Regions from separate parts of the Homo sapiens genome. Here region 2 is linked to region 1. The links come from fine-mapping of genetic effects on gene expression. A gene starts in region 1. The other region holds a variant in brackets. All regions are shown on one strand. Distances are from middle to middle. Region 1 holds the start of TTC7B (tetratricopeptide repeat domain 7B). Region 2 overlaps TTC7B (tetratricopeptide repeat domain 7B).

Region 1 (2,881 bases):
TTGTGACTGCGGGCGGGCTACGGAACCTTCCAGACTGACCGCTTCACTCTCAAATGCAGGACCCAGAATCCAACACTGCCACCACCACAGCTATTTCCCTGGCAGTATTCTCAACACTGCAGTCACAGTGATAGTCCAAAGTGTAGGTCTGATCATGCCACTCTTCCGTGAAAAGCCCTGCAGGGCTGCTCCATGTCACCAGAGTAAAAGTCAAAGTTTTTTTTTTTTTTTTTGAGACGGAGTCTCTCTCTGTTGCCCAGGCTGGAGTGCAGTGCTGCCATCTCAGCTCACTGCAAACTCCGCCTCCCGGGTTCACACCATTCTCCTGCCTCAGCCTCCCCAGCAGCTGGGACTACAGGCGCCTGCCACCACGCCCGGCTAATTTTTAAAAATATTTTTAGTAGAGACGGGTTTCACCATGTTAGCTAGGACGGTCTCGATCTTCTGACCTCGTGATCCGCCCACCTCGGCCTCCCAAAGTGCTGGGATTACAGGCGTGAGCCACCGTGCCCAGCCAAAAGCCAAGGTCTTATAATGGCCCACCAGGCACTACACAGAACTCCCCCCAACCTCTCAGAGTTCATCTCCTGCCTCGGCCCCTCTCCTTCGCTCCACCCAGCCCCTCTGGCCTCTGCCATTTCTCCATCCCACCCAGTGTGCTCTAACCCCAGAGCCTTCGCACTTGTGGTGTTCTCTGCCTGGGATACTCCTCCCCCAGAGATATCCTCATGGCTCCCCCTTAGTTTCTTCAAGTCTAATGCCACCTCCGTGAGGCCATCCCTGACTGCTCCATTTTAAATGGCAACACTTGCTCAGGCTGAAGTGCGTTCACTGCTCACTGCAGCCTCCACCTTCTGGGCTCAAGCAATCATCCTGCCTCAGCCTCCTGAGTAGCTGGGATTACAGGCATGAGCCACCCGCCTGTCCCAACTCTTTATGTTCCTCACTGAACCCTTCCCTGTTTCTTCAAATAGCCATTTTTACAGTCTAGTTTACTATTTTATTTTGCTTATTTTTCCCCCAAACTGGAATGTAAGCTCTCTCAAGCCAGGAATTTTGTTTTTTTAGCTCACAATTCTATCTCTGGCACCTAAAGCAGCGCCCAGCACATAGTAGGTGATCACTAGACAGTTGATTCACTGAGAGAACACAGAGGGACACCTCCCTAGGTCTCAGTCTAGGTGGCCAAGACAGGAGGCCCCACCAGTGACTGTGCCTTCCCCTCAGGGGGTCCGAGAGCTGGCGTGTGAGAGTGGCAGCCCCTGCCTGGCTCCGCTCAGCCATCTAGGGCACCCCTGGCAGGTGCTGTGCCTTGCCTGGGATGGAGGAGTCTCCGTCCACCTCTGGCTGGGTAGGGGCTAAGGCTGCGGGGCAGAGGGGCATCTGCTAAGGGGCACAGGCCAACCGGGCCCCAGGGAACCGCTGGCCACCTGAGATGGCAGGACAAACTCGGGCAGGCCTCCCCCCACCCCTCACACCTGGCTCACTGGTCCCACCGGGCGGTGACCTTCCCCAGGGTCACTGCCCTTTCTTGGCCCTACTCCTGGGGATCCAACCCGCTCCCAGGCTGTCGCTAGCTCCCTCCCGATCCTCTCCCTCCCCTTCATCCTGCCCAGACCCCTACCCCACCAGACCCCTCACCCGCCCTTGGTCAGATCTCTCTCCTACCCCGCTCCCCCACCCCCATCCCCACTTCCCCTCGGTCTTCACCCCGCCCCAGACACCCCCAGTCCCTCTCCCTGTCCTCCATGCCCACCCCGCCTTTCCTCCCTCGGGCCCCTGTCTCCCGCCCTAGCCCCCGCCCCTGCCCCAGCCCTGGCTCCGGCCCCGGTCAGTGCTGCGGCTCCGGCCCTGGCCGGCAGGGGCCGCTCCTCGCGGCGCCCGGGGCCCCGCCGCGCCCGCCGCCGCCGCCCGCCTCCCCGCCCCTTCCCCAGCCGGCGCTCCCGTTACGCCGCGGAGCCGGGAGCCGGAGCCCGAGCCCGCGGCGGCGGCGGGAGGCGGCGAGGGGGCGCCGCGGCGGCGGCGGTGGGGCCTGCGGGGCGGGCGGCCGGGCCCGGCCAGGCCGCGATGGCGACCAAGAAGGCAGGCTCGCGGCTGGAGACGGAGATCGAGCGCTGCCGCTCCGAGTGCCAGTGGGAGCGGATCCCTGAGCTCGTCAAGCAGCTGTCGGCCAAGCTCATCGCCAACGGTACGCTCCGGGCGCGCCGGCCTGGGCTGCGGGGGGCGCCGCGGCCTCCGCGGGAACGGGCCCCCGAGGCGCGGCCGGGCGCGGGGCGCGGGCAGGGGCGCGGCCGGGCCGCGAGGGAGCTGCGGCCCAGGGGATGTGCGCGGGACCGGGGCCTGGGGGAGCCCGGGTGCCCCGGAGTCACGCGGTGTGGGGGCCCGGGGGGGCGCCAGGGGCTGTCCCGGCGCCTGGGGTTCAAGCGTGCAGGGCGGGCTTCTGCGGAGTCTGGGGTGTCCGGGGGTCTCAGCGAGTCCGCTGCTCCACTGGGACCACAGGAGGTCAGGGGCCGGCCTGGGGCTTCCAAGAAGTTGGAGGTGATGGGGTGAGGGGGTCCCTCAGGACATGGGTGAAGTCCACAGTGTGTGTATGGTGTGCTCAGGGAATCAGGATGTGTTTATGGGGTCTTGAGAATGGGGTGTTGTACATAGACCCCTGGGGAATCTGGTTTGTAAACATATGGTGTTTAAGGGGTTCTGGGTGGAAGCGCAGACTCGAGGTGTGTGGGGTGGTGGTAGAAAGCAGGCTGGGATGTGCGTCCTGGCGTTCGGAGAAGTAGCATCAAGGCTGCCGACCTAGAGAGGTCAGGGTTGGGAATAGAGGAGAAATAGAGTCAGGGGGACCTGGAGGGAGAATATTGTGGAGCGAGATGGGAATGTG
Region 2 (2,897 bases), 280 kb after region 1:
AGTGATCACGCCACCGCAGTCCAGCCTGCATGAGAGAGCAAGACCCTATCTCTACAAATAAAATAAATTAAAAATTTTAAATGACCGCAAACTTAGCGTCTTAACACAAATTTATTCTCTTTGTTTTGGAGGTCAGAAGTCAAATCAAGCTTTCAGTGGGGCTGTGCTCCTTCCCCAGGCTCTGGAGGAGGACGGGTGTCCCCGTCTTCTCCAGCGGCTAGAGGCTTCCTGCGGCCTTGGCTCGTGGCCACCTCACGTCACCTTTCCTTCCTCTGCTCCGTCACTGCGTCACCTTTCTGCCTTTGACCTCCTGCCTCCCTCTAAGGACTCTGCTGGTTGCTCTGGGCCCCCTGGATAGTCCAGGGCCATTGCCCCACCTCGAGAGCCTTCGTTCAATCACATCTGCATCGCTCCATCTGTCATGGAAGGCAACATAGTCACAGGTTCCAGGGCTCGGGATGTGGACGTCTTTGAGGGGCAGGGGGAGCACGTTATTCTGCAGGCCGCAGCGTGGGAGCTGGGAGGCTGTCAGGCTCCTGCTGTCACACAGCGACCATGGTGCTTAGACCAAGGGGCGTGGAGGAAGTGGCGAGAGGCACTGGACTGTGAAGATTCTGAAGACAGAGCCAAGAGGGTTGCTCACACATGGAGCTGGGTGTGAGGGAGGGGAGACGCCAGGGATGAGGGTGAGGGTCTTGTCCTGAGCTACTGGAAGGATGGCGATGATGGCCAGGAAACAGGAAGAATAGGTTGGGGAGGAGAGGAGAAGGCAGGAGTCTGCTTTCAGGCAGGTTGAATACAAAATGCCTGTGGAGCCTCTGAGGGGGAGGCAGCTGGCTGGGCAGGAGCCCAGGCGAGAGCCCAAGATGAGGCGAGAGTGTGGGAGGTGTCAGGGATGCGGGGCTGGGAGCCATGGGCCTGACGGGGCCACTTCGGGACAAGCATAGACAAAGAGGAAGAGGTCAGGGCTGAGCTCCGGGGCTGGCGGGGTTTACAGGCTGGGAAATGAAGAGATCAGGAAAGAAGGCGCAGGAGCAGCTGCAAGGGAGGCGGAGAGCAGGCAGGGTGAGCTTCCTGGAGGAGGTGGGTGGGCTCTCTCAATGCCTGGAGACCCCGTCAGGGTGGCCTGAGAGCTGACCGTGGGCCTGGTGGTGTGCAGGTTGGCAGTGACCTTGACCAGAGCCATGCTGGGGATGCAGTTTTGCTCCCCCAGATTCATAGGGTGGAGCCCCCGCCCCTGTGTGACTATATTTGGAGATAGGCCCCTTAAGGAAGTAATTCAGGTGAAGTGAGGTCA[T/A]CAGGAGGGGCCCTGGCCCAGTAGGATTGGCGTCCTCACCAGAAGAAACTCTAAAGTGCAAGTGAGCTCACGCTCAGCCACGCCAGGACACACGGAGAAGGCGGCCACCCGCAAGCCAGGAGGGAGCCTCACAGGAACCCAGATGGGCTGGAACCTTTGCTTTGTTCTTTGAACCTCCAGGACTGTGAGAAATTAAGTTCATTGTTGAAGCCACCTGTCTGTGGCGGTTTTCTTACGGCAGCCCAAGCTGACTAAGGTGGGGTCAAGCCAGGTTGGAGTGGGCTCAAGGGGGAGGAAAAGGTGAAGTCTCTTTCAAGAGCGTAGCTGCAGAGGGGAGCTGAGAACACAGGTTAGGAGTCCGGTGGGGAAGGGGCCGTGTTGAGTGTTGAAGGCGGCCTCGCTGAGCACCTTGTGTTTCCAGCAGGGCAGGCGTGAGGAAGGAGAGAGGGAAGCTGAGGGGGGCTGCCTTGGCTGGGGGCCTGGTGGTTCCCCAGAGCAGCAGCAGCAGGGAGGCAGAGGCCTGGGTACCCCCAAGCCAGGGAGCCCTGGGGACGGGGCACCCACTCCTCAGTGAGCAGGGAGCCAACTTCGGGCAGGGTGGGGTGGCGAATGGACCAGGAAGGGAAGGAGGAGGCAGAGGAGGGAGGAGGCCCTTCTTTGAAGGAGCCGCCCCACTCAGCCAAGAGGATCTCAGGACAGAGCCAGGCTGGGGGCCTGGGCAGGTGTGGCCGGGGCAGGCCACTTCCCATCCCCAGCCCCATTTGGGATCCATGGGCTCGTCTGTCTGTCTCTCTGCCTCCTTCCAGGTCCTGGGCCCTGGGCTGTGGCCAGGGCTCTGCTCACCCTCAGGGCTGCGTGGGGACCTCCCTCGGTGGGGAAAGGAGGGAACCAAGGCCTCCCGTTATCCTCCATGCCCCCTACCTGTGGTCATGGCCTGGGGGAGGTGCATGCTCGTGCACAGGTGGGCGTGTCTGTGATCACATGGAGCAACCCAGACTCCTCCAGATGGCCCCACGCATCTCCCCGGCGGCCACACAGTCATCATTGCGGGCCCAGACTCTCTGCCTGCAGGAAGTCCCCCCTTTGCAGGCACCCTCCCCATCATCCTTGGAGTTCTCCACGTCTGCCCTGTCCGTGCTGGGCCTGTCACCAGCCTGTCACCTGCTGCCCCAGCCCCAGCCCAGGTCCCTGCAGCACAGCCGGCTCCAGGCTGGAATGGGTGACCCGGCCCTACTGAAGGAATTTCAGGGCAGGGTCAGCCACTCTGGCCACTGTCTCCCTCCAATGCCCCCATACCCTCCCAGCGCTCGGCCCCTGCCACTCGGCCCCCTCTCTCCATATCGCCACCTTCTCATTCCTGCTCCTCCCCCACCACCTCTCAAGGCCGACAGGGTGGGCATTGCCCAGTGAGGGGACACCACTCATATTGAAGTTCTGTAAACTGTGTCTTGGGCACTGTACCAGGTGGCTGCTCCCATCCCTCCCCTAGCGTCTGCTTGCCCTGTCCATCCTGCCTACTCCAGAAGCAGCCACACACTTGACCATAAGCCTTTGAGGCCTGGCCGGAGTCCTCCGGGGGAGGCGGGCAGTAGCAGCCGCA

The links.
Region 2: its variant is fine-mapped to the expression of TTC7B in testis (GTEx, PIP 0.94).

The regions. Positions count from the first base shown.
Region 1 is chr14:90,815,482-90,818,362 of GRCh38, reverse strand. TTC7B (tetratricopeptide repeat domain 7B) reads left to right here and starts at 1,933. Exons shown (of 20, transcript NM_001010854.2): 1 at 1,933-2,188. The coding sequence starts at 2,068. RefSeq lists a silencer at 1,760-1,939.
Region 2 is chr14:90,534,363-90,537,259 of GRCh38, reverse strand. It overlaps TTC7B (tetratricopeptide repeat domain 7B), which reads left to right. Exons shown (of 20, transcript NM_001010854.2): 20 at 1-2,897. Among named protein-coding and RNA genes, the nearest start is that of LINC00642, 81 kb to the right of the region's middle. RefSeq lists an enhancer at 2,724-2,897. The variant T/A (reference allele first, on the strand shown) is at 1,298.